Linked DNA regions of Homo sapiens: region 2 is linked to region 1. The links come from fine-mapping of genetic effects on gene expression. Tissue or cell type: blood mononuclear cells. Region 1 holds a variant in brackets; the other region holds the start of a gene. All regions are shown on one strand. Distances are between the middles of the regions. Region 1 overlaps CEP89 (centrosomal protein 89). Region 2 holds the start of SLC7A9 (solute carrier family 7 member 9).

Region 1 (15,795 bases):
GGCCAGGCATGGTGGCTCAGTCCAGAGGTTCAAGACCAGCCTGGGTAACATAGGGAGACCTTGTCTCTGCCATAAATTTAAAAACTAACTGGGTGTGATGGCTTACCGTCTGTAATCCCAGCTAATCAGGAGGCTGAGGCAGGAGGATGACTTGAGCCCAGGAGTTTGAAGCTGCACTGAGCAGTGATTGCACCACTGTACTCTAGCCTGGGCAACAGAGTGAGACCCTGTCTCAAACAGAACAGACAACAATACTAAGCAAAGAGGATGATTCACAAAGATAAAAGGCTCAATTTACCAAGTAGAATTCACACAAATTTAAATTTGTGTGCACCTAGAAATAATTTATGTCAATACATTTGAAAATTTAGATGAAATAGTCAAATTCTTTGAAAAGCTTACCTTAAAACTGACTCAAGAAGAAGAAGAATACCTGAATAGTCCTATAATCATTAAAAGAATTGAATTAAAAAAAAAAATCTTCCTTTGAAAACTCCAGGCCTGGATACCTTCACTAGAGAGCTCTACAAATATTCAAGGAAGAAATAATTTCAGTCTTACATAAACCTTTCTAGAAACAGAAAAAGAATTAATGCTCCTTAATCTAATGAGGTTAGTATAACCTTGATACCAAAACCCAACAGTGATCATATAAGAAAGGAAAATTACTTTTCATTTCACTTATGAATGTAGATGTAAAACTTCTATTAAATTCTAACATTCTAAAGTTCTATTAAAAAATACAGCTACAATAAAGATCACACCAAATAGGGAAATGTTGAAAGCTTTCCTATTGAGATTGGAAACAATACAAGGTTGCCCTCTGACACCATTTCTGACAACATTAACAGCACTGGCTACCAAGTGGTAACTGACACACGTGGCATGAAAAACTTAGAAGGTTTGGGAAAAGGGAAAACAATAGTGTCATTATTCATAAATGACATAATTCTATCTGTAGAAAACAAATCTACAAATCATTAAAAATAAGAGGTTTTAGCAAAATTGTTCAAAACAGAAAATTTATAAAAATTAATTGTATTTCTTTGTAGGAAAAAAATGTGTAGAAAATGGTATTTTGGGCCAGGCCTGGTGGCTTACACCTGTAATCCCAGCACTTTGGGAGGCTGAGGCAGGTGGATCATGAAGTCAAGAGATCGAGACCATCCTGGCTAACAGGGTGAAACCCCATCTCTACTAAAAATACAAAAATTCGCTGGGTGTGATGGCGCATGCCTGTAGTCCCAGCTACTTGGGAGGCTGAGGCAGGAGAACCGCTTGAACCTGGGAGGCGGAGGTTGCAGTGAGTGGAGGTGGCGCCACTGCATTCCAGCCTGGTGACAGAGTGAGACTCCATCTCAAAAAAAAAAAAAAGGAAGAAAGAAAATGATATTTTGAAAACTAAGGTAATGATAGGCTATCATCATGAGAAAAAATTTTTTTAATTAAAAGGAAGGAACCATCGACAAAGCTTCACAAATAGATGTGGAAAGATTTACAGTACTTCCGTTGGGAAAATTATGAAACTTTATTGATTACATGATTTCACTGGGTGAAGAATTCCAAGCTGACAGGTTTTTGGTAGTTTGTGGGTTTTTTTCCATTCAGTTTTAAAGATGCTGGCTGTTGATAGTCTTTTGGCTTGCGTCGTTTATGATGAAAATCTGCTGTCACGGTTATCTGTATTCTTCTGAAGATAACGTGTGTTTTCTCTGAGGCTTCTTTTAAGAATTTTTCATTGTCACTGTTTTTCAGCATTTTAATTGGGATATGCCTTAGCATGGTTTCTTTCTTTCTTTCAGACCCTTTTTTGCACAGGGTCTGGCTCTGTTGGACAGGCTGGAGTGCAGTGGTGCAATCACTGCTTGCTCCAGCCTTGACCTCCTGGGCTCAAGTGATCCTCCTGCCTCAGCCTCTCGAGTAGCTGGGACTACAGGCATGTGCCACTGCTCCCGGCTAATTTTTAAATCTTTTGTAGAGACAGAGTCTTGTTACGTTGCCCAGGCTGGTCTCAAACTCCTGGCCTTGAGGGAGCCTCCTGCCTTGGCCTTCCAAAGTGCTGGGATTACAGTGGGGGACCCCACACCCGGCCAGCATGGTTTCTTTACTCTACATGAAGTTCATTAAGCTTCTTGGGGCTATCAGTGTGTATTTTTCATCAAGTTTGGAAATCTTTTGGCTATTATTTCTTGAACGGTCTCTTCTGTTTTTCCCTCTCACCTCTCCTGGACTGCTTGATGTTGTCCTGTTGACTGTTCTGTTCACTTTTAGCCCACACTTGTTTCTCTCTGGGCTTCAATCAGACAGTGTCTATTACTATCTCTCTTCAACTTCACAAATCTATCCTTCTACAATCTAATCTGCTGTTAGTCCCATCCAATATATTGTTCACTTTGTGTAATGATTTTTCCCATCTCTGTAAGAAAGATCCATTTGAGTCTTTTTTGTATTCTCCGTCTCTGTCCCCAGCATGCTATTTTTCTCTTCTTTCTCAAATGTAGGAGCATGTTTTTCTAAAAACCTTTGTTTGCCAACGCCATCATCTCTCTCACTTCTGAATCTGTTCTGTTGATTTTTTCCCCTCCTGATCATGGATCATATTTTATTGCTTATTCTCATGCTTGATTGGGTGCTGGATGGTGTAGATTTTATGTTACAGGATGTTAGACATATTGCATTGCTTTAAATAGTGTTAGATTTCATTCTGGTGCACACTTAAGCCACTAGAGAATTGTTGGATTATTTATTTATTTGTTTACTTTCTTTTCTGTTTTCTTTTTTTTTTTCTTTTTGTAGAAACAGGGTCTTGTTATGTTGCCCAGGCTGGTTTTGAGGTCCTGGGCTCAAGGGATCCTCCCACCTCAGCCTCCCAAAGTGCTGGGATTACAGGTGTGAGCCACCGCATGTGGCTAAGCTGGATTCTTTCAAAGCTGATTTTTGTTAGGGTGGGCCCAAAGCAACCTCTAGTCTTAGGGCTAAGTTAGCCCCACTGCTAAGACAGTAACACTCTTCTAAGGATTCTATCCAATATCTCTTTTATTATAAGGCCTTTCCATTCTGACTGGTGGGGTATGAACTATTTCCTGTTCTTTGTGCATGTCAGAAATTGTTCTGCCTACTGTTTGTAGTGTTTCTTTCCTAGGCTTTACGCAGTTTCCTCTCACACACGGACAGATCAGTACCCAGCCAAAGACCCTTCAAGGTCTCTAGAGCCCTTTCTCGCTCCGTGAAACGCCCTCTGCCCTGCCCTGGAAATTCCAGCTGCCTTGACCTTCCTGCTCTTGGATCTCTGGCTCCTGGGCTCAGCAGGTGTCTGCCAGACAAGAAGGTGGAGGGAGCAGTTGCAGCACTCACCTTGTTTTCCCTTCCCTTTGGGATCACAGTCCTGCCTCGCCTGTTGTCCAAAGTCCGAAAACTGTTGTTTCTTCTGTTTTGCCTGGTTTTTTAGCTGAGGAGTAAATCTGGTCTCTGTAACTCTATCTTGGCTGAAAGCAGAAGTCTTGGTATTTTCAACATTCTTCTTTAACCTTTTATCGTTAATCCAGTTCAACAATTTATCCAATAAAATAATAGTTAAATAAGTTTTCAGTGAAATAAATGAATCTTGGATTTTGTATGTTTTACAGTTACAGTTGACAAACCTTAAAATCATATATTGTTGTGTATTCCTGCTGCGCTGGTAAAGGATGCAGCCCCTATCCCAAGTTACTCTCTATGCAAATTCGGTAACACCCAAGCTGGTGTTCAGCAAAATAAGTGCCCCTTTGTTCTTTGTTTCTTTTGTCTTAAAAACATGTATTTATAATTACATTATTATGGAAAAATTGTTTTAGCAGGTTTTTTTTAAATAAATCTGGCATTTATAACCATGTAAAAAATAGAGCTATCTTAGATTTTTTGGAAGGAATAGGGTATACACACACATACACACACACACACACACACACACACACACACACAGAGAGAGAGAGAGACAGAGAGACAGAGACATAAGCCAAAACTGTGGGAGAAAAAGAGGTTAGATCATCACCATCAAAGAAGTTTGTGGCCAGGTGTGGTGGCTCATGCCTGTAATCCGAGCTCTTTGGAAAGCTAAGGCAGGAGGATCACTTGAGCCCAAGAGCTCGAAACCAGCCTGGGCAACATAGTGAGACTTCATCTTTACAAAAAATACAAAAATTAGCCAGGTATCATGTGTGCCTGTGGTCCCAGCAACTTGGGAGGCTGAGGTAGGAGGATTGCTTGAGTCCAGAAGTTCGAAGCTGCAGTGAGCCATGATTGTGCCACTGCACTCCAGCCTGGGCAACAGAGTGAGACCCTGTCTCACACAGACACACACGTAGTGTGTGCCCAGCCACACCCTCTCTCCGGTGGTCTAGCAGCTTGGTCCCAGGTCCTCTAGGGCCCAGGATGGGGAGATGTTTCCACAGAGGCATTCCAAGTGACCCACCCAGGGGCTGGAGGGCTGGGCTGTTATCACTCATCTTCCTCGTTATGTGACTGCCCCATTTTAGCTTCATTGTGCTGGATACGAGCATGTAATGTTTTTGTCCTTCAGCCAATTACAGAAGGAAGAAGAGAAAGAAAGGGCTGAGATGGAGGAGTTGATGGAGAAGCTGACAGTCCTGCAAGCGCAGAAGAAGAGCCTGCTGTTAGAGAAGAACAGTTTGACAGAGCAAAACAAAGCACTGGAAGCCGAACTTGAACGAGCACAGAAAATCAATAGGTTTGTGTCTTTTTTTCCTTTAAGTTGCTTTTATTTTCAATAGTTAAAAAAGACAAATGGTCTGGGTACAGTGGCTCACTCCTGTAATCCCAGCACTTTGGGAGGCTGAGGCAGGCGATCATTTGAGGTCAGAAGTTCAAGACCAGCCTGGCCAACATGGCAAAACCCCGTCTCTACTAAAAATACAAAAATTAGCCAGGCGGTAGTGGCACGCACCTGTAGTCCCAGCTACTCGGGAGGCTGAGGCAGGAGAATCATTTGAGCCTGGGAGGCAGAGGTTGCGGTGAGCCGAGATCACGCCACTGCACTCCAGCCTGGGCAACAGAGTGAGACCCTGTCTCAAAAAAAAAAAAAAAGACAAATGAAGAATATTCCATTTCATTTCTTTTAATCTTTTCTTTTTCTAATAGTGGCTATAAAATGGAAAAGGGTAATTGAAATTACTGGATATCAGATTATAATAAGTATTGTTGCTGTTAACCAATGTTAACCAACATTTCTAAAGTCTATAATTGAAATATGGTTGATGGTCATATTGATAACCCTAAGATTCAAAGTTCTAGGAGCTCTTTTCTAACCATTTCCTAAAAGTCTACTTTGGAATTTCTGGATCTTTTTTTCGAAAGTGCCTTTTAGAACATAAGCCAGAAAGTTAATAGAATAATACTTAATGAGCCTATGGGCCAGGTGTGGTGGCTCACACCTGTAATCCCAGCACTTTGTAAGGCTGAGATGGGCAGGTCACTTGAGGTCAGGAGTTCAAGACCAGCCTGGCCAACATAGAGAAGCCCTGGCTACTTAAAAAAATATATATATGTATATATACAGAAAATTAGCTGCGTGTGGTGGCGCATGCCTCTAATCCCAACTACTCAGGAGGCTGAGGCATGAGAATCACTTGAACCTGAGAGGCGGAGGTTACAGTGAGCCATGATCATGCCACCGCACTCCAGCCTGGGTGACAGAGCAAGACTGTGTCTCAAAAAAAAAAAAAAAAATGAACCTATTCATTGTTAGACATTTGCAACTCCTCTTATTCACTTGAGTTGGGGTCACTAATTATGCTTGGTTTCAAATTAAATTCAGTTACCTCTTCTCACCTTGAAACTTAATAGAAGATTTAGGTTGCTGAAGAATAGCATTTAAATGCTAACATACTTGCTGTTTTTGTAATACAGATATTCACCATGCCCTAGCCATGTAAACTAATGGGCTTTTTATTCTACCATTTGGGGTAACTCTCTAGGAAATCTCAAAAGAAAATTGAGGTCCTCAAAAAGCAGGTGGAAAAAGCCATGGGGAACGAAATGTCTGCTCATCAGTACCTGGCAAACCTTGTTGGCCTGGCAGAAAACATAACCCAGGAACGTGACAGTCTTATGTGTTTGGTAAGTTTCCTGAAGGTTACATCAAGTAAACTGCGAGTTAATATGCAAATGTGATTTTAAGAGTATTTTAAAAAATGATCTATTAAAAGCTTTATCCAGGCATTCCCTGACTTACGATGGATGGTTCCACCTAGGAATTTTCGACTTTATGATGTATTTATTGGGAAGTAATCTTATTATAAATTGAGGAACTCCTTACAACTCATAATGAAGTTACCATTGATACTGAATGCCCATTGCTTTTACACCATTATAAAGCTTAAAAAATGTAGATTGAACCATCATAAGTTGGGAACCATCTGCTGTATTGCCAGGATTAAATGCATTTTTGATATACAGTTTGTTCAATTTATGATGGGTTTATCAGGATGTAGCCCTGTTGTAAGTCTAGAACCATCTGTATTTTAAAATTTCAACTGTATTACCCTGGCATGGTGCTGTGTGCCTGTAGTCCCAGCTACTCAGGAAGCTGAGGCAGGAGGATCATTTGAGCCCAGGAATTCAAGACCAGTCTGGGTAACATAGTGAGAACCCATCTCTACAAAAAAAAATTTAAAAATTAGCCAGGCATGGTGGCATGCACCTGTAGTCTCAGCTACTCAGGAAACTCAGGTAGGAGGTTCATTTGAGTGTGGGAGTTGAAGGCTGCAGTGAGCTATGACTGTACTACTGCACTGCAGCCTGGTAGACAGAGAAAGACCCTGTCCCTAAAAAAAAAAAAAAAATGCTAATTAAACCAGTCTTGAGATACCATTCTCAAAAAATGTTACAAAACATTTTTTTCTTTTTAAACAATTGTATCTTTTTATTAATGCATAATATTTTTACATTTTAAAAAATATTTTAAATATATTTACATGCACATGTGGGGGTACATGTGATATTTTGTAATGTGCATAGAATGTGTAACAATTAAGTCAGGTATTTGGGCTATCCATCACCACAAGCATTTATCTTTTTTTTTTTTTTTTTTTTAAGATGGAGTCTCACGCTGTCACCCAGGCTGGAGTGCAGTGGCGTGATCTCGGCTCACTGCAACCTCCGCTTCCTGGGTTCAAGACATTTTTGTGCCTCAGCCTCCCGAGTAGCTGGGACTACAGGTGCATGCCACCACACCTGGCTAGGTTTTGTATTTTTACTAGAGACAAGGTTTTGCCACATTGGCCAGGCTGGTCTTGAATTCCTGGCCTCAAGAGATCTGCCCACCTCGGCCTCCCAGAGTGCTGGGATTACAGGTGTGAGCCACCACACCCAGCTGAGCATTTATCATTTCTGGGTGTGGAGAATATTTCAAGTCCTCATTGCTAGCTATATTGAAATATACAATACTTTGTTGTTAACTTTAGTCAACCTACTCTGCTGTCGAACATGATAACTTATTTCGTCTATCTAACTGTATGCTTATACCTATTAAGCAACCTCTCTTCATTCAGCCACCTGCCCCCCAGCCCCCCACAAACACACCCATACCCACATGCATCCTAGCCTCTGGTAGCTATCATTATAATCTCCACCTCCATGAGGTCAACTTTTTTAGCCCCCACATATGAATGAGTACATGCCATATTTATCTTTCTAGGTCTGGCTTATTTTACTTAACGTAATGGCCTCCAGTTCCATCCATGTTGCTGTAGATGACATGGTTTTGTTCTTTTATATGGCCAAATAATATTTCATTGTGTAAATAGAGCATATTTTCTTTATCTGTTTGTCCATTGATGGACACTTAGGTTCATTTCATATCTTTGCTACTGTGAATTGTGCAGCAATAAACATGGGGGTGTAGATATCCCTTTGATATACTGATTTCCTTGCCTGTGAATAAATACCCAGCAGTTGGATTGCTGGATCATATGGTAATTGTTTTTAGTTTGTTGAGGAACCTCCACACTGTTTTCCATAATGGCTGTACTAATTTACATTCCCACCAACAGTGTATGAAAGTTCCCTTTTCTCCACATCCTCATCAGTGTAATAAAATAAAGTAAAATTTCAGGCCAGGCATGGTGGCTCACTCCTGTAATTCCAGTACTTTGAGAAACTGAGGTGGGAGGATCACTTGGGTCCAGGAGTTTGAGACCAGCATGGGCAAGATAGGGAGAACCTGTCTCTACAAATAACGAAAAACTTAGCCAGGCATAGTGGTGCATGCCTGTGGTTTCAGCTACTCAGGAGGCTGAGGAAGGAGGATCACTTAAGCCTAGGAGGTCGATCATTCCACTGTACTCCAGCCTGGGTGATAGAACAAGACCCTGTCTCAATTTTAAAAAAGAAAAGAAAAAAAATTTCAGGACCCTCTAAATGTATTATGCAAAGGGGGAAGTTAAGCCCTGGAGACTGAGCAATGTAGCTTGTTGGCTATTCTGCTTCTTATAGGTTAGTTCTCTTCCTCATTGCTGTTGTTTTGTAAATGACTAGGAGAAACCAGAGACCAGACCTTCTCCTCCTTCCAGTCACTCATCTATCTATAAAGATGAACTGCTTGCTTCCTTTATTGTTCTTCTACCTAAGACCAGATGGCACCCATGACCCCATGACTGTTATATCTTCAATGTGGAATGTTAAATATACCTTTCCTGAAAGAAAAAGACTGCCTCAACTAATTAGATTGTTGTAACTATGCATTCAGTCTTACATAGAAAGACACTGAAATTCTGTTAAGCTTTCCTACATGTGGTCCTATTAGCGATCCCAAACTTGTGCACTTCAGAACACAGACTTCTGTTCTTTGGAATCTACTTCCTGGGTGGCCTGTCCTCAAACTTTGTGCTTGAATAAACTCTCTTTAAACTAGAGTCTCACCCTTTTGATTATTTTAGGTTGACATCAGCCTCTGTTATTTTTTGTCTTTTTAATGATAGCCATTCTAACTGGAGTAAGATGATATCTCATTGTGGTTTTGATTTGCATTTCTGTGATGATTTGTGGTGTTGAGCATTTTTTTCATATGCCTGTTGCCCATTTGTATGTCTGCTTTTGGGGAATGTCTATTTAGATTCTTTGCCCACTTTTTAATGGGATTGGTTTTGTTTGTTTGTTTGTTTGCTATTAAGAGTTGTGTTCCTTAAAAAAAAAAA[G/A]AGAGAGAGAGAGACAGAGAGAACTGAGTTCCTTGTATATCCTGGGTATTAGCCTCTTGTTGAATGAATATTTTGCAAATATTTTGTCTCATTCAACAGGTTGTCTCTTCATTCTATTGATTGTTTCCTTTGCTGTACAGAAGCTTTTTAGTTTAATATAGTTCCATTTGTCTATTTTTGTTTTTGTTGCCTGTGCTTTTGGGGTCTTAGCCATGAAATTTTTGTCTAAAGTCCTAGAGTGCTTCCTCTATGTTTTCTTCTAGTAGTTTTATAGTTTCAGGTCTTAGATTTAAGTCTTTAAACCATTGTGAGTGGATTTTTTGCATATGATGAGAAATAGAGATCTAATTTCATTTTTCTGTATATGGATATCCAATTTTCCCAGCACCATGTATTGAAGAGGGTGCCCTTTCCCCAGCGTATGTTCTTGGTGCCTTTGTTGAAAAGCAGTTGGCAGTAAATATGTGGGCTCGTTTCTTGGTGCTTTATTCTGTTCCACTGGCCAATGTGTCTGATTTTGTACTGATACTGTGCTATTTTGGTTACTATAGCCTTGTAATGTATTTTGAAGTTAGGTAGGGTAATACCTTCAGCTTTGTTCTTTTTGCTCAGGACTGATTTGCCTTTTCAGGCTCCTTTTTGGTTCCATATGTATAAAGTAGGATTGTTTATTCTATTTCTGTGAAAAACGTCATTGATGTTCTGATAGGGATTGCACTGAATCTGCTGATTGCTTTGGGGAGTCTGGTCATTTTAATGATGTTAATTCTTCGCATCCATGATCATGGGATGTCTTTCCATTAGTTTGAATCAGCTTCATTGTCTTTCATCAGTGTTTGTAGCTTTCCTTGTAGAAATCTTTAACTTCTTTGGTTAAATTTATTTCTAGGTATTTTTTTGTAGCTATTGTAAATGGGATTGCTTTCTTGATTTCTTTTTCAGGGAATTCATTATTGGTGTATAGAAACACTACTGATCTTTATACATTGATTTTGTATTCTGCAACTTTACTAAACTTTTTTTTTTTTTATCAGATCTAAGAGTCGTTTGGTGAAGTCTAGTTTTTTCTAAATATAAGATCATGTCATTGGCAAAGAGAAAAAATTTGACTTTCTCTTTTCTAATTTGGATGACTTTTATTTCTTTCTCTTGCCTGACTGCTCTTGCTAGGACTTCCAGTACTGTGCTGAATAAGAGTGGTGAAAGTAGTCATCCTTAACTAGTTTCAGTTCTGAGAGGAAAGGCTTTTTGCTTTCCCCTACTCGGTATGATGTTAGCTGTGGGTTTGTCATATATGGCCTTTATTATGTTAGGTATGTTCCTTCTATGTCTAGTTTATTAAGTGTTTTTATCACGAAGGATGTTGAATTTTTATCCAATTTTTTTCTGTTTCCATTGGTGTGCTCATATGGTTTTTATCCTTCATTCTGCTGATGTGATCTATGATGTTTATTGATTTGTGTATGTTGAACTGTCTTTGCATCTCTTGATCCCACTTGATCATGGCATATTATTTTTTTGATGTACTGTTGAATTTGGTTTGCTAGTATTTTGTTGAGGATTTTGCATCTGTGTTCATTAGGGATATTGGCCTGTAGGTTTCTTTTTTTATTGTGGCCTTGTCTGGTTTTGGTAGCAGGGTATTGCTGGCCTGAAAGAATTAGAGAGAATTCCTTCCTCTTAAATTTTTTTGGAATAGTTTGAGGAGAATTTGTATTAGTTCTTCTTTGTAAGGTTTGTAGAATTTGGCAGAAAAACCATCTGGTCCTGGACTTTTCTTTGTTGGGAAACTTTTTATTAATGATTCAATCTCATTATTTGTTAATGGTCTGTTCAAGTTTTCTATTTCTTCCTAATTCAATCTTGGTAGTGTTGTCAATGGGCCAGTTCAGGTTCTTGACTTCACAAAAGAATTTGAGAGCTAGTCCAAAGTAAGAGCAGGTGAAGAAGTCTATTGCATAGCAGAAGTCACTCTGAGAGACAGAGTAAGAGACAGACCCTAATATTTTAAGGGGATGCCCTTTACAGGAGCTGTGCATGCATATTCATAAAGTATTGGTGAGGTCAAGTGTGAAAGGTGGAACTATGGTTGGTGCATGCACTCAGCATGTACATGCTCTAACATGTATCACATGTATAATTAGCATATAAAACCTCCACCTAGGGTGTGTTTTTTACTATTAAAATGAGGAAAAGCTCACTGTAAGCTAAACCTTGTGCCTAGCTGTACATGCAGGACCCTGGAGATATCTTTAGCCCTGCCCAGGCAGGAATTGGTAGTTAATAGCTTCTTGGGCTTTTGGTGTTGATTGGCTGGAGATTGGGGAAGCTACATTACGATTAAGGGATTTTTGTTCTTTTTCCTAGGCCATATTGGGTATCAGGAACGTGTAACCACCTGGTAGTTGGCTGGGATCCTGTGGGACTACTTATCTTGCTAAGATAAGTTAGGTGCTGACATACAAGGGCGCACATGAAAGGAGCCCACTGAGAAAGGAGCATGTGGGGCTTCACTAAAGGGGACAAGTCAGTATGGTCTCATAACTTTACTTATCCTGCCTCTGTAGGTTGTATGTTGTCCAGAAATGTATCCATTTTCTCTAGGTTTTCAGTTTGTTAGCAGTGGATTTTCACTATGTTGCCCAGGCTAACCTTGAACATCTGGATTCAAGCAATCCTCCTGCCTCCTGCGTCACTGGGACTATAAGAACGTTTCACCCTGCCTCACTTAGTTCTGCTCTGATCTTTGTTTTTTCTTTCTTTCTACTAATTTTGGGTTCTGTTTGTTCTTGTTTATCTAGTTCCTTGAGGTACATCATTAGGTTGTTTATTTGAAATCTTTCCACTTTTGTGATGCAGGCATTTATTGCTATAAACTTCCCTCTTAGCATTGCTTTTGCTGTATCCCATAGGTTTTGGTATGTTGTGTTTGGTATGTTGTGTTTCAGTTTTCATTTGTTTCAAGAAATTTTTGATACCCTTCTTAATTTCTTCATTGACCCAATCATTGTTAAGGAACATGTTGTTTAATTTTCATATGTTTGTACAGTTTCCAAAGTTCCTCTTGTTATTGCTTTCTAGTTTTAGTCTACCATGGTCTGAGAAGATACTTGACATGATGTCAGTATTTTTAAATTTGTTGAGCTTGCTTTGTAGCGTAACACACAGTGTATGCTAGACAATGTTCTATATCTGATAAGAATGTGTATTCTGCCGTTACTGGATGAAATGTTTTGTAAATGTCTATTAGGTCATTTTGTCTAAAGTGCAGTTAAATTCAATGTTTCTTTGTTAGTTTTCTGTCTTGATGATCTGATTGCTGAGAGTAGGGTGTTGAAGTCCCCAACTATTATTGTATTGTAGTCTATCTCCCCTTTTAGATCTAATAATATTTGCTTTATATACCTGGATGCTGTGGTGTTGGGTGCATATATGTTTAGAGTATATGTCCTCTTATTGAATTTATCCCTTTATTATTATAATATTACCTTCTTTACGCAGTTTTTGACTTAAAGTTTGTTTTATTTCATGCAAGTATAGCTACTCCTGCTTGCTTTTGGTTTCCAGTTGCATGGAATATTTTTTTATCCCTTTACTTTCAGTCTGTATGGATCTTTACAAGTGAAATGTGTTTCTTGTAGGCAGCACATAGTTGAATCGTGTTTTTTTTTTCTGATATCCATTCAGCCAGTCTGTATCTTTTAAGTGGAAAATTTAATTAATTTACATTCAAGGTTACTATTGATATGCGAGGACTTACTCCTATCATTTTGTTGATTGTTTTCTGGTTGTTTTGTGTATCATTTTTCCTCTTATTTATCTTATTATTCTATAGTGATAACATTTGAGTTCCTTCTCTTCCTCATTTGTGTGCTTGCTCTACTAGTTAGTTTTATCATTTCATGTGTTTTCATGATAGTAGATATCGTCCTTTCAATTCCAGGTGTAGGATTCCCTTAAGCATTTCATGTAGGATGGGTCTAGTGGTGACAGATTCTCTCAGTGTTTGCTTATCTGTAAGTCTTTACTCCTTCATTTATGAAGGATAACTTTGCTGGGTATAGTATTCTTGGCTGGCTGACAGGTTTTTTTTTTTTTTTTTTCTTTTAGCCCTTTGAATATATCGTCTCATTCTCTCCTGGCCTGTAAGGTTTCTTCTGAGAAATACACTATTAGCTGGGCACAGTGGCTCACACCTGTAATCCCAGCACTTTGGGAGGCTGAGGCAGGCAGATCATCTGAGGTCAGGAGTTCAAGACCAGCCCGGCCAACATGGCGAAACCCTATCTCCACTAAAAATGCAAAAATTAGCTGGTTGTGGTGGTGCACATGCCTGTAATCCCAGCTACTTTGGGGGCTAAGGCCAGAGAATTGCTTGAACCCAGGAGGCAGAGGCTACAGTGAGCTGAGATAGTGCCACTGCACTCCAGCCTGGGCAACAGAGTGAGACTCCATCTCAAAAAGAAAAAAAAAGGAAAAAGAAAAAAGAAAGAAATACGCTGTTAGTCTTATGAGAGTTCCTTATATGTAACTAGACATATATATATATATATATATATATATATATATATATATATGTCTAAATATATATTCTAAATATATATGTCTAAATATATGTATGTCTAAATATATATATGTCTAAATATATATGTCTAAATATATGTATGTCTAAATATATATATATATATTTAGAATTCTGTATTTGACTTCTGACAGTTTGACTATAATGTCGTCGGGAGAAGACCTTTTTGGGAACCTGAGCTTCCTATATCTGGATTTCGAAATCTCTTGCTAGACTTGGGAAGTTTTCAACTTATTTTGTTGAGTAGGTTTTTTATGCCATTAAACTTCTTTTCACCCCTTGGAACACCAGAAGGCATGCTTCATTTTTTTTTTTAATTTTTCTCTCTTTCTTTTGCTCCTTTTCTCTCTCTCTCTCTGTTTCTCTCTCTCTTTCTCTCTCTCTCTCTTTCATCTCACTGAGTATTTAAAAAGCAAAAGAAATTCTTTCTCCTGCTTGATCTAGTCTATCACTGAAGCTCTCAATTGTATTTTTTATTTTATTCATTGAATTCTTCAGTTCCAGGATTTCTGTTTAGTTCTTTTTTATATCTGTCTCTTCGATGAATTCCTCATTCATATCCTGAATTGTTTTTCTGATTTCTTTATAGTGTTTATTTGTGTTCTGTTATATTTTACTGAGCTTCTTTAATATCATTATTTTTAATTCTTTTTCAGGCATTTCATAAATTTCTTTTTGTTGTTGTTGGAATCTGCTGTTGGAGAATTATTATGTTCCTTTGGAGGTGTCATATTGCCTTGCTTTGTCATGTTTATTATGTCCTTTCATTGATTTCTGCAAATCAAGTGTAACAGTCACTTATTCTAATTTTTTGTATTGGTGTATGTGTGTGTGTGTGTGTGTTTGTGTGTGTGCCTGGGGCAACCAACATGGTGGGACACTCCCTGCAGGCTGTGGTGAAGAGGATGGGGTGATCCCCAGGCCCTGGGTGGTGTGCTTGGGTTGCTTTGGCAATGGAGGCATTGGGCAGGGGAAGCCTGTCTTCAGGGCACATGCACGTGCGCAGGGCTCTGCGGCTGGAGGGGGTGGGGTTGCTGTTAGTGACAGGGGCCCCAGCCAGGCAGGTTTCAGGATTGGGGAGCACTTGCTTCGGCTCCCTTGCTCTCATGGGCAGCCTCTTCAGTGCACTGCACCACACTCTTCTGGGTATGCAGGACACTGTAGGGTAGAGTGCTGGGGACCCGCTGCTCCACTGGGTCCACCTGGTGCCTCGCCGCTGCAGCCTTCCGGGTGCATGTGGGGAGATGTCCGTGGCGCTCCAGGGATGTGGAGATGCAGGGGCTGCTGGGTCCCAGGGCAGGATGTAGTCTGGTGGGGGCTGGACTCTCAAAATGATGCCACTGTGCTGCAGCTACCTGGAACCTGGGTCAGTGTGGGACCCAGCGTGAGCCCCCGCTCTGGAGCAGTGGGGTCACACAGACTCCAGGGAGCTCCCTGCACCAGTCTCAGGGCCTGCAGGGGTTGAGGGGCTCCCCTGGGGCTGGGATCACAGGAGTGTGTGGTGAGAATGTGGACCCCTGGGGATCTCTCACCCTTTCCCGACACAGGGGAGCCTCTCCAGGCTCCCGACCAAGACCCATCCTGTCTGGGCTGTCGTCTCCCTCTCCTTCATTGCGCGGGTGCCGCCCAGCCCTCCCCTGTCGAGTTCCCGTGGTCTCCGTTAGATGTTCTCCGTGCGATGACTGACTCCTGTTTTGGTTCTCCTGTGTGGAGGAGTCTGACATCCTGTGCCTCCAGCCAGCCACCCTGAGCCTTCCTCCTGAAAACAGGTTTTTGTTTGTTTGTTTGTTTGGTTTTTGAGATGGAGTCTCGCTGTGTCACCCAGGCTGAAGTGCAGTGGCACAATCTTGGCTCACTGCAACCTCCGCCTCCTGGGTTCAAGTGATTCTCCTGCCTCAGCCTCCTGAGTAGCTGGGACTATAGGCGCATGCCACCACACCTGGCTAATTTTTTTGTAGTTTAGGTAGAGACGGGATTTCACCATGTTAGCCAGGATGGTCTCGATCTCCTGACTTTGTGCAC
Region 2 (15,795 bases), 24 kb after region 1:
GGCTCACTGCAACCTCCGCCTCCCGGATTCAAGCGGTTCTCCCACCTCAGCCTCCTGAGTATAGCTGGGATTATAGGCATGAGCCAGTTTTGTTTCATTTTCTTGAGAGATTTTATTAATTTTTGATTAGGTATTTTATTTCTGTTATTTCTATTATTATTATTATTATTACTACTTATAGACAGGGTCTGGCTCTGTTGCCCAGGCTGGAGTGCAGTGGTGTGATCATAGCTTACTGCAGCCTCAAACTCCTGGGCTCAAGCCATCCTCCTGCCTTAGCTTCCCAAGTAGCAGGGATTACAAGCATGAGCCACTGTGCCCAACTTTTTTAAACTCTTCATTCACTGCAGTCAGGGCCTGGGGATCCCCACTCATGGGGAACAGTGTAGACTCACTCCAGATCCATTTGAGAGCAGGCCGGTGGCTCTAGTCCCCAGGTGATGCCTGGCCTTTCAGAACAGGTTTCCTTTGAAGATCTGCAGGTCTCCCACCCACCCCTCCTTTCTTTGAGGGTCCTTCACATCCTCCACTTACCTACCTTCACAGTGCCTCTAGTAGGAAGAGAAACTTGGACAAGAGTGGGTCCTGAGATTTTCTGTCACTCTTGATCTGCACGATCTCTCAGTCTACAAACATCCAGGGTTTGGCATTGACTTTTGTCCTCAAAGCAACTGATACTTTGTCTGCCTCTTTGGTTTCAGTTTAGGCTTCATTTTTTCTGCCCTTAGAGACTGCCTGTTCTTTCGAGTTCAGCCATACATTTAAACATGATTGCTATAATTTACCAAATATCTTCAGAAAACCAAAGTCTGGGGAATTTTTTTTTTTTTTTTTTTTTTAAATACAAGGTCTTGCTCTGTTGCCTGGGCTAAAGTACAGTGGCACAATCTCAGCTCACTGCAGCCTCAAATTTCTGGGCTCAAGTCATCCTTCTGCCTCAGCCTCCCGAGTAGCTGGAAATACAGGTGCATGCCACCACGTGGGCCCAGCTAATTTTTAAGTTTTTTGTAGAGATGAGGTCTCACATGTTGCCCAGGCTGGGGCTTTTTTAGACATAGTTTAATTAAGTTGTTCTTACCACACAGTGGGCATCAGGGGCCTTGGAAGGAAGGAACGTTCACAAGAAAAGTGACTCTGGCCAAGTGGGCACATCACTGGCCTCCCTGAACTTCAGTGTCCTGCTCTTTAAACCGTGGTGCGAAGTCCACCTGCAAATCCAGTTTCCAACATTTTCCAGAACCATCTGGCAGTGTCCGGGAAGGAGCTGGCCTCTCCAGCCTGGCCATGCTCCCCGATGGGGCTAAGCACCTTGTGAGGTGTGGCTCGTGTCCTGGTCTATTCCCAGTGGACTGTGGCCCTGTGAGGATGTGGCCACCTTCATCTGTCCTGTCTCCCCAGCACACCACAGGGCACTGCATCCTGGTTCTGGAAACGCTGCCCTGTGGCTCTTTCCAACCTCACATGCCTCGGCCCCTCAGGGCCTCCCCATCCCGGCACATGGGCCAGGCCAATCTTCTCCATCTTGGCAATGAGTCTTATCTCCTCAGGTCCCCCACCTCACCCCCTGACTCGCTCTTAGCTCTGGGCTGTATGGAGCGGAAGACCTGTGGAAGGTCACTGAGTGCTGGCCAGGTCACAGTGGACAAGCAGACGGGACACAGGAGGGGCTGTGTGGGTGCCTGTGGCCAGGCCATCGTGCTAGAGCGTCTGGCTGGCCAAGGCCAGCCCTGCAGTTCCTGCAGTTCCTTATTCGACACGCCCAAGTTCATTCTTGAGAGAAAACAGGGATTGCACTGGCGCCAAAGTCAAGGGCAGAACATAGAGGGAAGAGAAATGCCTGTGCCGTCCTGCTGCTCCCCATTCCCAGGGCACTGGCCGCTTCATTCCACACTGAGCCCCAGCCTGGGCTGTCCTGCTGCTCCCCATTCCCAGGGCACCAGCTGCTTCATTCCACACTGAGCGCTTGCTTCAGAACCCAGGCACCGAGGGCTCTGTTCCCTGCTGATAGCGTTCTTCTGTTTTGAGTTCTTGCTACTTTGGGATTCATATGGGCTCTATATTATTTTTAAAATTGTGCCATTTTAAACTTATTTCCCTCAGAGAAATGGAAGGTGAACTTGAAGTTATTTGGGAATCTACCTTCAGGGAAAACCGAAGAATCCGAGAACTTCTCCAGGACACACTCACGAGGACAGGCGTGCAGGACAACCCCAGAGCTCTGGTTGCCCCCAGCCTCAATGGCGTCTCTCAGGCAGACCTGCTGGACGGCTGCGATGTCTGCTCCTATGACCTGAAGTCTCATGCCCCCACCTGCTAGAATCTGCGGGAGCCCGTGGTGTAGCCTCCTCTGGCCTGAAAGGTCTGCCTCACACAGGCCTTCCCTGCAGGGCAGCCCATGGTGGCAGCCGGAGGTGCGTAAGCCCACTGAACGCTGCAGGGCAGGGAAGAAATAAATGGTCTCATAGTTTAATCCATTGATAACATTTTGCTTTATTTTTTAATTTTTTTTTTTTTTTAGAGCTAGGGTCTCACTCTGTTGCCCATGCTGGAGTACAGTGGTGCAATCATAGCTCACGGCAGCCTCAAACATGTTTGAGATCCTTCTGCTTCAGCCTCCTGAGTAGCTGGGACCTCAGGTGTGCACTGTCAGGCCCAGCTAATTTTTTTCTTTTTTGTTGAGATGAGGTCTTGCTATGTTGCTCAGGCTGGTCTTGAACTCCTGGCCTCAATCTGTCCTCCTGCCTTGGCCTCCCAAAGTGCGGGAATGACACGTGTGAGCCACTGCGCCTGGCCCATTGTGCTTTATTTTAATAACGTGCTGCTGAAATCTGTTTTAGCCAGGGCATGTTCTCTGGCCACATTGCCACTGAGATGAGTTCTATGACACCCACTGCTCTGGTGAGTAGGTGGCCTGCTGAGCAGGCCTGCCTTCCAGCTCCTAGATCTGCAGCTGGGAAGTGCTGGAAGGGTTGGGCGGGCAGCTGAGCCCTCGTGCCATGTGTCAGATGGGGAAGTGTCACCCGAGGAGCCAGGCCATGGCACCGGCCCTGATGATAGCTGTGCGTGAGCTCTGGGGGCCTTTTCTTGTTTGGTCAAAAAAAACAAGGTGCTGCTGCTGTTCATGCCCTCTAAGTTGTACAAACCTTTTCTGCCCTCTCCCCTAGCCCTTCTCTATCCTCCTGAGCAAGTACTTTATTCTCTTTTGTTTAGTTGTTACTTTTGTTTGTTTGTTTTGAGACAGGGTCTCACTCTGTTACCCAGGCTGGAATGCAGTGGTGCAATCACCACAGCCTTGACCTCCAGGCTCAAGCGATCCTCCCATCCCAGCCTCCTGAGTAGGTGAGATGACAGGTATACACTAACATGCCTGGCTAATTTTGTAAAAAAAAAATTTTTGTAGGCCAGCCATGGTGGCTCACTCCTGTAATCCCAGCACTTTGGGAGGTCGAGGCAGGCGGATCACCCGAGGCCAGGAGTTCGAGACCAGCCTGGCCAACATGGTGAAACCCCATCTCTACTAAAAATACAAAAATTAGCTGGGCATGGTGGTGGGTGCCTGTAATCCCAGCTACTTGGGAGGCTGAGGCAGGAGAATTGCTTGAACCTGGAAGGCGGAGGTTGCAGTGAACCAAGATCACGCCATTATACCCCAGCCTGGGCAGCCTGGGCAACAAGAGCGAGACTTTGTCTCAAAAAAAAAAAATTTTTTTTTTGGTAGAGATGGGGTCTTGCTATGTTGCCCAAGCTGGTCTCAAACGTCTAGCTTCAAGCAATCCTCCTGCCTAGGCCTCCCAAAGTGTTGGGATTATAGGTATGAGCCACCGCGCCTGGTCTGGGAAGGTAATTGATTCTGGAGCCACACAGCTCCCCACCCATGTAATGAGAGCCCTGGCTTTGAGCTAAGATAGAGTCCCTGCCCCACTGCCACCACCAAGAAGCATACCAGGGGGCCATGGTTCTGTCCCATGTGTGTTAGATGACGTGCCACCTCCTCAGGAAAATTACCCCAGCCGCTCAGGACCATTCAGTCCCAGGCATGCTGGAGGGACTTGGGGACATTGGGCTACAAAGGACCCTAACTGTGGGACTCAGGGGTGGCACCCTGCAGCATCTCCTTTTCAGAGCCCCTCGCAGTGAAGTCCTGCCTTGTTTCAGGTGGGAAGGAGGCCCCAGTACTGGTCCTTGGTCATGTGTAGAAGTTCTACGTGTGATCTTTGATTGCCAGACGGAAGGGTGAGATAGAAAATCATAGTTCTTTTATGACTCTATAAGCTTGTTCAACAGTTGAATCATTGTAATTTAATTTTATTTTACAAGCGGTAGAAAGACTCACTGGGATTGAAAACTGTGTATCATCTCCCTAGGAGATGACCTAACAAATAACTGTGATGCTATTTCAAAGGCATTTACGGCCGCTCTGCAGCCTCCTGTAGACAGGCTGACAGGCGGCGGCAGCCCAGCGTGGCTGCGCGGGGCAGGAGTGCTTGTCAGCAGGAATGCTGCTCCCGCCATCGTGACCTAGAGAACCACTGTTGACATCCCTGTCTTTCTGCCTTTTATGCAAACATTTTATTCTTTTGAGAAGTGTCCACTTTTGTTCTTATGTTTCTGCTTTAAGTTTTTCACACAGTGCAAACATACTTTGCAAGTATGGGGACTCCTGGATGGCACTGTGACCAGGGCAAGGGCAGGTGTCCCACAGACACTATCTTCTGCCCAGCCTCCTGCTGGGTGCCATAGGAAATGGGCAGAGAAGCCACGAGTCCAGGATGCCAAGGAGGGCGGGGCAGGCAAGGCAGAGAGGCACCTGGGTGCTTGTGAGATTCCAGGAAAGGACAGAAACATTGGGGTGCTTCTGGGAGGAACTGGCACGCCCCGGCCCTTGCAGAGTGGACAAGGTTTCAGGAGCTACAGAAGGGTGGAGAGGGCCCCCAGGAGCACAGCAGGCACTCAGAGCAGCAGGAGGGGGTTTGGTCAGAGCTTGGGTGGGAAATGAGGCCGGACTGCACAGAGGAGAACTGGGTCTGCTGGGAGGGGCTCCTCCTTCCCCATGCTGCAAGTGTCTGGTCTGAGCAGGGAACCCTTCTCTTTCTTGGTCCTGGTGAGGTTTCATACGGCATTGGAAGATTCCTGGTCAAGCAGCTGTAGAACATGACCCAGGCACGCGAGTGAGCCTTGCTGGCTTTGCCATTATTTAAAAGCAGCCCTGGGCATGGTGATGGCGCCTATGGTTTCAGCTACTCAGGAGGCTGAGGTGGGAGGATCACTTGAGCCTGGGAGGTTGAGGCTGCAGTGAGCTATGATCATGCCACTGCACTCCAGCCTGGGCAACCAGGTGAGACCCTGCCTCAAAAATAATACAATAAAAAGTAAAAGCAGCCCTGGGGAAATGGAGACAGTGGACAAAGCAGGCTGGGGCACCAGGTGTGCATGTGGGTGTGAGTCTGTCATGAGAGCTGTCCTGAATGCCCTTAACGCCACTGAACTGTATGCTGGAAAACAGTGACAACAGTGGATTTTGTTATATAGACAATTAAAAAAGAAATAACACCCAGGCCTGCTTCCTGAGTGTTTGTGTCATTTTACTTTCCCACCACCAACCTCCGCGCAAGTTCCGGTTGCTCCGCATCCTCATCAATGCTTGGTGGTGTTGTCAATAACTGTGTTGAGAGGACAGAGATTTAAGGCCGAGGGTGGCCTAGCATTTAGCCTCGAGCGCAGCTGTCACTGGCTCCTCACCCCCTCCCCTACCTGTATCGTTGGCGGGAATGAAAGGCACAGTCCCCAGTGTGGGTGGCTCAGGAGAGCCCTCCCTGGGCCCAAGCAGCTCTTCCAGCAGGGAGGGCTTGAGCCGGATACAGATCCCACAGCAGGAGGCTGAGCCTCTTGGGATGGGGCTGGGCTGACATCTGAATTCTTGAGTAAGACTGGAAACATCATCCACTCAAAACTTGGCTGGGCGGCATGGGGAGGGCTCAGTGTGCCCAGGTTTGTGGCACCTCTCTGCTGGGTCACAGCTGGGCAGGGGTCCACAGGTAAGGAGTGGCTGCAGCCAGGAGTGGGAGAGGGGATGGGTACAGCTTGTTAGGCCTCTCTTGGTTTTCTCAAGGTGTGAGTCCATGGCCCCAAAGCTGGGCAGGAAACCTGCTGCCCTTCCAGCCTCCCAGGCTTGGCTTTTTTTTTTTTTTTAGTTGAGACAGTCTCGCTCTGTCACCCAGGCTGGAGTGCAGTGGTGCGATCTCGGCTCACTGCAACCTCCACCTCCTAGGTTCAAGCAATTCTCCCACCTCAGCCCCCCGAATAGCTGGGATTACAGGGTGTGTCTCACCACGCCCATCTAATTTTTTTTATTTTTAGTAGAGACAGGGTTTTGCCACGTTGGCCAGGCTAGTCTCAAACTCCTGACCTCAAGTGATCCGCCCACCTCAGCCTCCCAAGGTGCTGGGATTACAGGCATGAGCCACCATCCCCAGCCTCAGGCTCGGCTCTTTTCCTCATTTTTGACTAGGGGTGGACTGGGTAGGAGGGTTTTGGAGAGAAAGAAGAAGGGCGGCTTTTGTAGTTGATATTCACCTGCAGGGCCCCGCTGGGCTGCTTTGCAGGCCCAATGTCTGCAAACAACAGGACAGAGGTAGTGAGGACCCAGGCTGGGCTATGGAGACTTCAAACCTACGGAGCGCATGAGGCTGCTTCCTGGAACTGGGCATGCCACCTGCTACTGAGGACCCAGGCTGGCTCCCCGCGTCTGTGCTGGGTGCTCTGGGCCGCCATCCCCTTGTTCCACAGTCCACCCGTGTGTCAGCACTCTACAGAGGGTATAGATGAGACAGGGAGAGTGCACTGAGGTGACAGCATTGCTGCCTTGGGTCATCAGGAGCCTGGAGCATCTATTTCACCTGGTCAGGAGGGTCCTGAGTATTTTATTAAAGAATAATTCTTTGAAAGTGAAGGGTCTGTGTGTAGTATATGTAGCATACCAGGGCTGGGTTGCAAGCAACAGAACTATACTGCCCAATGTTAAGGGAAAGAAGGAAATATTTTGGAAATGTACACTCTGTGGCTTCCACCATGTTTTGAGAAGGACAGAAGCTGGAATAGCCTTGGGGTGAGGGTCTCAGTAGTTGAACACCGTCAGCCTACCCTGTGCTTCACTCAGGTAGCAAATCCTGGGAGACAATGGCCTCTTGGCTGACCTGACATCCTGAGCCCTCCTGTGTGGCCAGAGAAGTGAGGTCTTTTGGTTGGTAGCCCACCAGTGTCCCACAGAAAGGGACAGTTCCCCCCAAGTTGTGGATGCTGGGCAGACAGAAACAAGATTACAAAAAATGGTAACTTCCTATGTTAGAGTCTCCATCTGTCACCCAGACTGGAGTCCAGTGGCACGATCGTAGCTCACTGCAGCCTTGAACTCCTGGACTCAAGCAGTCCTCCTGCCCCAGCCTCCCAAGAGTAGCTGGGACTATAGGTGCACACCATCATGCCTGGATAATATTTTTAAATTCTTTTCGTAAAGACAGGCGCTCGCTATGTTGCCCAGGTTGGTCTCAAACTCCTGGCCTCAAACAGTCTCCCTGCCTCGGCCTCACAAAGTGCTGAGATTACAGGCGCACAGCCACAGCACCCGGCCCCCAAAATAGTAACTCTTTATTAAAGATGTTTGATGACACAGAACCCTCTTTCCCCAAAATCAGCAGCGATCACAACTTTCATCATGTGTGGCCACCGTGGTTGAGAAAAGAGGCAGCGACCATGAATCGTGACGAGGTCGGTGGGGAAGGGAGCAGGATGGGAAGTCGTGTTTTGACAGCATGCTGCAACTGTCTTCCCCACGCAGGTTATTTAATGCAAAACCATATTACTTGGAACACATAAAAATGATGGACAAAGTTCGAAGGCAGAATTGTACTATTCCAATAGTTGTTGGATATATATAGATTGTTCCTAGATAAGAGTTTTGAAATTATGTTTATGCTTTCCTTGCTAATTGTTTTATGGCTAGACAGCACGTCCCTGACATCGAAAGGCTTTGCACATCGCTAACTCATCACAAGTTCTTCTGGTTGGAATTCAGGTAGTAAGGGAACAAACAACTCTTCTATCTGTGGTAGTATGCCAGTTATTTCTGTCTTTTGGGTCCCCCTCCAAATCCCCAACTGCTACCGTCAGCAGCAGTGGGAAGGAATACAAGACCGAGTGAACTTAATGAATAGGAGAAGGTGAAAACTTGAAGGCAGGTCTGGAACAAGCTTTCAGCGGTAAAGGAAGATTCAGCCTCTGCCTGAATGTTTGCCCAAGACCTTGCCTCTGTCACGAGGACAGTGAATTAGAGAACAAGGCACCCAGCTGGGCAGCCCAGAGGCTGTGCAGAAATGGACTGACACTATGGGATTAAAGACGTCTTTAAAACCATCACAGGAGGCCAGGTGCAATGGCTTACGCCTGTAATCTCAGCACTTTGAGAGGCTGAAATGGGAGGATCACTTGAGCCCAAGAGGTCAAGGCTGGAGTGAGCCATGATCACGCCATTGCACTCTAGCATGGGAGCAAGAGACCCTGTCTCAGACACAAACCATCACAGGAGAAGGAAATGTTGGGGCTCAGGACACACCACCCCCAAAATATGACTGTAGGAGACTAGATATATATCACCCCAAATTATACTTCTTTGGAATATTTTGAGCTGGTTATTCTGAGAAACTGCAGACACAACAGGTGTAGCTCTGAAAAGCTGCCCTTTGCAAAAGAAATGTATGTCATGAAGGAAATCTACATTAGTACAAGTATCTGTACCAGGAAGAGACAACTTTTATTACCTGAGAGACTTATATCTGCATAACAAGACGACCTTTATTCGCCATGCATTTCCTCCCCTCACCATCCCATTACTAGTCCCTACCTGCCCCAGAAGCCCCAAGCCCCTAATCCTTATATAGCTCAGGATGCTATATAGGGTTTAGTCATCTGGCCCTTCTTCAAGTCTCTTGTTTTGTGGGACTCAGTTGCATATACACATAATTAAAACAGTTTTCCTCCCATTAGTCTCAATTCGAAGCCCAACCAAAGAACCCAAAAGGGTGGAGAGAAGCATTTTACCCTCCCCAACTGAAATCAAATGTGCACCAAATATAAGATAAAATGTAGATGGTGTGAAGATCTTCACACTGCAAGCATTTTTGCAATCGGAAGGGAAAAAGCACGGGTTGAAAATGAAGGTCAAGAGTCTTTAGCAGAAACTTAAGAAATAGAGTGGTTGGGCGGGTGTGGTGGCTCACACCTGTAATCCCAGCACTTTGGGAGGCTGAAGCGGGTGGATTACTTGAGGTCAGGAGTTCAAGATCAGCCTGGCCAACATGATGAAACCCTGTCTCTACTAAAAATACAAAAATTAGCCGGGTATATTGTCACACATGTAGTACCAGCTACTCGGGAGGCTGAGGGAGGAGAATCGCTTGAACCTGGGAGGCGGAGGTTGCAGTGAGCTGAGATCATGACACTGCACTCCAGCCTGGGTGACACAGCAAGTCTCAAAAATAAATAAATAAAATGGTAAAAATGACAGTAGGATTTGCGCTTTGGGAGGCCGAGGCAGGTGGATCACTTGAGGTCAGGAGTTCAAGACCAACCTGGCCAACATGGTGAAACCCCATCTCTACTAAAAATACAAAAATTAGCCAGGCATGGTGGTGGATGCCTGTAATCCCAGCTACTCAGGAGGCTGAGACAGGAGAATCACTTGAACCCAGGAGGCAGAGGTTGCAGTGAGCTGAGATCGTGCCACTGCACTCCAGCCTGGGCGACAGAGTGAGGCTCCATCTAAAAAAAAAAAAATTGACAGCAGGGAGGTGAAACTTCAGTCACATGGCAGAAGCACTGGATACACAATGAACCAATGGTCTTCAAGAACTGAGGAAAATTTTGCTTTTTAAATGAAATCCGTATTATTTTCCATGAGGAAGAGCTTATGAGAATTACTTGAATACTTTCTGTGTATTCAAGGGAGGGAGAGGGTGGGACTGCGGTGAAAAACACAACTTTAAGAAACAGGCTTAAGAAATGCTCACCGTGGACCCAAAATGAACTGAAGTGGAGGTTTCTGACTTAACAAAGGACCCTCACATCCCGATGTTCCAGACTCGGCACTTGGAAGAGGCCCAGGAAGACCAGAGGGCTGGTCCCGGACATTCATGGAACATGCAAGTTCAGTGTGTTCCGTGAGGAGGCGCCTGTTGCTCGCCCTGCGTCGCAGGTTCAGACCCTGATCCTGGCAGTGCTGCCTGAGCCCATGTGGGTAGTGGGTGAGGTTGCAGGGCTGTCTGGCCCCAGCGGGGGACCACTGCCCCACCCTGATGTCCTCACGTGGTCTCCTGTCAGCCTGCCAGGAGCACTTTTGACCCAGGGGGTATTCTGTGGTGTTTTGCAAACATGGATGTGCCAGGTACTATGATGAGTGCTGCAACATTAGGAGGAGTGACCCCAGCAAGCCGGTGGGCAGGTTCTGTCTAGGGTGGCAGGACCTGCCACTAGCCTCTCTGCTCAGGGCTCTGGGCATGGCAGGCAGGTAAACAGGTGGGCCCTCCCAAGATGGGAGGTGACGAACTTCTAAATCAGGACCGTGCCTCTGGGACAACAAGGGTCCCTGTGCTCTGCAGACGGCTTTCAGAGAAACCTGTGCCTCTCTCAGGTCTGCTTGCCCCAAACTGCTCCCAAACTGACCCCCAGAGACTGGCCCAGCTCCTTCCATCCCTGACCTTTGCTTCCATCTGATATCTGGGATGCAGTTAAGTTTGGCCCAAGGCAAAGCTACCAGAGTTTTGGCTGAAGGTAACAGCTACGATGCTTCAGATGCAGTGCTTATGCTGTGCCAGGCTGTCTCATAAGGTCTCATAAGGTGCTTCCTTCCCTATCTGAAAGGGCTTCGTGCTGACCCCTGAGGCTGCCGCCTGAGCCTAGGTCCAATCGCAGTGCGGGAGAACCTCTGCTCCCTCCCAGAGAGATCCAGACCCTGGCAGCCCTGGATGCGGACCGGAGCTTCCTGGCCTTGTGTTGCCTGTCCCCCTCCGTTTCCCCGAAGGGGAAGGTTTTGTGTCCCTTGTGATGAGCCAGGACATGGCTACGTGAACAGCACCACAGCCAAACCTGATGGGCATTTGGCCGCAGCTGCAGGGAGGACACGAGGCCCTGCATTGCCTCAGGCCTGCTTGTGATTCCAAGTGGTGAAGCCCCATCACTGGTAAAGAGGAGTGGGACGGGCTCAGCCGCTCTCACCTGCTCAGCCAGAGGCAGGCCCTTGGCTTGGGGGAAATTCCTGGGCGGGGAGGAAACTGACCAACAGCTGAGTTACGCACACACAGCGGTTCCTGTTTGAGCTGCCTGACTTGGGTTTTAAATATAGCCTATTAAGGCAATTAGCGAATTGGTTCCAAAGTTTATCTCCTCTGATTCCCAAAGATAAAAGAAGGCATAATTTATTTTATCTTTAGGTAAAAAGTGTAGACGATTTGGGACCATCTGGTTTTAAAAAAATAATCTGACCTAGACACAAATGAACAAAACAAAAACGGTTTTGGAGAGAAATTGGTGTTCCTGACCCTCCCCTTTTTTGTGTGGCGTATCTAAGCTTCATTGCAAAAAAAAAAAAAAAGGTGTTTAATAATTACCCTTATTGACCTCTGTACCTTCTGGACTTCCTTTGCTCCTGGGCACAAGACATGGCCATTTCTAGGGTTGGACCGTGCAGGCACGGGCGGTCAGCTGGGCCGCAGCTCCTCCGGCTCTGCAGGGTCACGGAGGAAGGTAAGTAAGGTCAGTAGGTGATAGAAAGGCTCATGGCTCTCCTGGCCGGGGCCTGGACAGATAATTTATTTAGAGAGAGGGTACAGGAGTGCATGGTTTTCTCCTAGTTCAGTCTGGAACTGGGTTTCCTCGGCAATGTTTTCTTTCCTTTCATCACTCAATGAAAAAGTACCTGGCCAGGCGTGGTGGCTCACCCCTGAAATCCCAGCCCTTTGGGAGGCCGAGGTGGAAGGACTGCTTGAGGCCAGCCGGGGCAAATAGCAACACTCCCGTCTTTATAAAAAATATTGTAAAAATTTAAAAAGTACAAAGAAAAAGTACCTGTATTGTGGATCTGTGATGTATGGGAGTGCCTTTAATCTTGGGAAGGAATTATAAGACAGACACTCCTTACCTGGACTTGATTCTGATAAATACATTCCACAATATTTTCATTTTTTAATTTTTTATATATATATTTTTTGAAACAGAATCTCGCTCTGTGGCCCAGGCTGGAGTGCAGTGGCATGATCTTGGCTCACTGCAGCCTCTGCCTCCAGGGTTCAAGTGCTTCTCTTGCCTCAGCCTCCCGAGTAGCTGGGATTAACAGGCACCCACCACCACACCCAGCTAATTTTTTTTTTTTTTTTTTTGCATTTTTAGTAGAGACGGGGTTCGCCATGTTAGCCAGGCTGGTCTCAAACTCCTGGGCTCAAGTGATCCACCCACCTCGGCCTCCGAAAGTGCTGGGATTACAGACCTGAGCCACTGTGCCCAGCCCGGGATGTTGTTAAATATTTCTTTTTACTTTTGAAAAAAAATGAAGTTGACCATAGAGGTAGAATGACTTTCAAGGCACAGGCACGTGGGCCAGGAGGCTCCCGGGGCCTGTCTGGGAGAGAGCTAAGCAAGCAGCTGAGCTTTGGAGAGCAGCGGGGAGCTGTGTTCCCCTGCCTGGACAATGTTAATGACTGACTTTGACTCTGGGGCCCAGCGCATGAGCCCTGAGGGACTGGCAGCGGCCCCCACCTGCAGCAATAACCAACACTGTGCTTTTGCAGCCAGCTCCCCTAGTCCAGGCCGAGCTTGCACTTGCGTCTTGTCTGCTGCTGCTGAACCAAGATTTAGCTGTGCGCCCTCCTTGCAGTCTCCTGGAACCAGCAGGAGGAAACATGGGGGATACTGGCCTGAGAAAGCGGAGAGAGGATGAGAAGTCGATCCAGAGCCAAGAGCCTAAGACCACCAGTCTCCAAAAGGAGGTAAGGCGGTCTCTGGTGGGGCAGGCCCTTTGCAGGTTAGGCAAGGGCGTCTGAACGAGGGGCGCAGGCAGTGAAATCCGGGCCGATCCCTAGTGACACGGCAGAAGATGTACTCTTTGATTTGTGAAGTACATCTTTAAAGGGATAATCTCTGGACTTACTTCTCTTTCCCTCTCGCCAGGGAATTCTGCATCTTCTTTTTTTTTTTTTTTTTTTTGAGATGGAGTGTTGCTCTGTCACCCAGGCTAGAGTGCAGTGCTGCCATCTCGGCTCAATGCAACCTTCACCTCCCCGGTTCAAGGGATTCTTCTGACTCAGCCTCCCGAGTAGCTGGGATTACAAGCACCCGCCACCATACCCGGCTAATTTTTGTATTTTTAGTAGAGACAGGGTTTCACCATGTTGGCCAGGCTGGTCTCAGACTCTTGGCCTCAGGTGATCCTCCCAAAGTGCTGGGATTACAGGCGTGTGCCACTGCACTCGGCTGCATATTCTTTTTTTTTTTTTTTTTTTTTTTTGAGACAGAGTCTTGCTCTGTCACCCAGGCTGGAGTGCAGTGGTATGATCTCAGCTCACTGCAACCTCCGCTTCCTGGGTTCAAGCAGCTCCTGAGTAGCTGGGACTACAGGCATGTGCCACTACGCCTGGCTAATTTTTGTATTTTCAGTAGAGACGAGGTTTCACCATATTGGCCAGGCTGGTCTCCAATTCCTGGCCTCAAGTGATCCGCCCACCTCGGCCTCCCAAAGTGTTGGGATTACAGGCATGAGCCAACTTGCCCGGCCCGCATATTATTTTAAGTTCATAAATAGGTGCTTTTGTGTGTTGAGCAAGTGTCTAGACGGGCCAGTATTTTTGTTCAAACTAATGGCCTTTCCAGGAATGGTCAGAAAGGGCGTTCTTTTTAAAAATTTTTAAAAAAATTTTTTTAGAGTCAGGGTCTTACTCTGTCACCCAGGCTGGAGTGCAGTGGTGCAATCATAGCTCACTGCAGCGTCAACCTCCTGGACTCAAGCAATCCTCCTGCCTCAGCCTCCTGAGTAGCTGGGACTACAGGAGCACACCACCATGCTCTGCCAAATTTTTAACTTTTCAAAAAAATTCTTTCTGTAGAGTCAGTATCTTGCTGTGTTGCCCAGGCTGGTCTGGAACTCCCGGGCTCAAGCGATCCTCCCACCTCAGGCTCCCAAAGTGCTGGGATTATAGGCGTGAGTCGCTGTGCCCAGCCAGAGAGGGCGTTCTGATGGTTGAGTCCCCTCTAAATGCCTGTCCTCCTTATATCTGAATGGCTGTAGTGATGGGAAGTACTGCCCCCAGCATAGCCTGTTCTGTCTTAGAGGCATCTACCAGGGACAGCTGCTCTGAGTTGGGCTGCAGTGAGCAGCTGGGGCTGGCCCTGGGCCTGCAGGGAAAGGGAGCTTGGGGCTGGGGGGAAGGCAGAAAGGAGCTCAACACAGCACACTGCGCCAGTCCCAGGCAGTTGGGAGCAGCAGGTGCTGAGCATGGAGGCGCAGGGAGGGCTTCAGGCTCCTAGGATGAGGAAAGGCAGCTCCAGGTGAGCTCAGGATGGCTTCCGCTTCCAGGGCAGAGGTGTGGGCAGGGCCTCCGAGAGCTCCCATGCCTGGCAGCAGAGGGGATGGAGGAGGGACGGCACCAAGGCTTTAGGGCTTGACCGGAGGGCTGGCAATGGCCTGAATGGCTTGGCCTGGGACCCCCAGGAGGTAGACGATGGGCTGCAGCACTTTCCCTCTCTGCCAGTCTCAGGCCTGATCTCAGGAAGGGCCTCTTAGAACCCTGGTGGGCCCCAGTGGCCACAGAGCACAGCTGAGAAATCCCCAAGATGTGTCTTCTGAGCTGGGGACAGGTGTGGCGGCACACGCCTGTAACCTTAGCACTTTGGGAGGCTGAGGTGGGAGGATCCCTTGAGCCCAGGAGATCGAGGCTGCAGTGAGTCATGATCGCGCCATTGCACTCCAAGCCTGGGTGACAGAGCGAGACCCTGACTCTAAAAACCAAAAATCTGAGCTGGGTCTACTCCTCAGTCAGGCAGCTTCAGGGCGAATGCAGACCTCACCCACATCAGAACCCAGGCAGTCCCTCAGCAGGAGGGAGGATTCTGGAGCCAAACTGCCAGTCCTGGGCAGGGCTGAGATGAGGAGGAGAGCTGAGCCCATCCCCGCCCTGTCCTGGAAGTGCGCCCTGGCCCTGAAAGCAGACGCTGCTCCCCAGGGATCCCACTGGTGTGTGCAGAGTCCTCAGGGTGGCAGCCTGCAGCTGGGAGCCCCTCATCCCCTGCGATCTGACTCCAAGCCCAGCTTCTTCCCAGACAGGTGAACATGGGTGCTGGAAACTTCAGGCTCTGGAGATCTGGCCGGGGCTGCTTCTGAGGACGAGTGTTATGAGTAGGGCTTGAGTTGGACTTTTTTTTCCTCCTTGATTGGTGTGTAATTTACATACAGTGTAATGTGCAGGTTTTTTTTTTTTTTTTTGAGACAGTCTCACTGTCACCCAGGCTGGAGTGATTGTAGTGGCTCACTGCAACCTCTGCCTCATGGGTTCAAGAGATTCTCCTGCCTCAGCCTCCTAAGTAGCTAGGAACAGGTGTGCACCAAAATGCCTGGCTGATTTTTGTATTTTTTAGTAGAAACGGGGTTTCTCCATGCTGGCCAGGCTGGTCTCCCACTCCCAACCTCAGGTGATCCGCCTGCCTCGGCCTCCCAAAGTGCTGGGATTACAGGCATAAACCACTGCACCTGGTCGAAAT

The links.
Region 2: SLC7A9 starts here. The variant in region 1 is fine-mapped to the expression of SLC7A9 in blood mononuclear cells (TOPMed, PIP above 0.99).

Annotation. Positions count from the first base shown.
Region 1 is chr19:32,890,176-32,905,970 of GRCh38, reverse strand. CEP89 (centrosomal protein 89) reads left to right here. Exons shown (of 19, transcript NM_032816.5): 15 at 4,559-4,726; 16 at 5,973-6,114. Among named protein-coding and RNA genes, the nearest start is that of SLC7A9, 28 kb to the right of the region's middle. The variant G/A (reference allele first, on the strand shown) is at 9,192.
Region 2 is chr19:32,865,684-32,881,478 of GRCh38, reverse strand. SLC7A9 (solute carrier family 7 member 9) reads left to right here and starts at 11,712. Exons shown (of 13, transcript NM_014270.5): 1 at 11,712-11,793; 2 at 12,834-13,031. The coding sequence starts at 12,945. CEP89 (centrosomal protein 89) reads left to right here. Exons shown (of 19, transcript NM_032816.5): 19 at 2,101-5,554. The coding sequence ends at 2,317. RefSeq lists enhancers at 5,438-6,323, 10,362-10,884, 10,885-11,407, 12,849-13,424.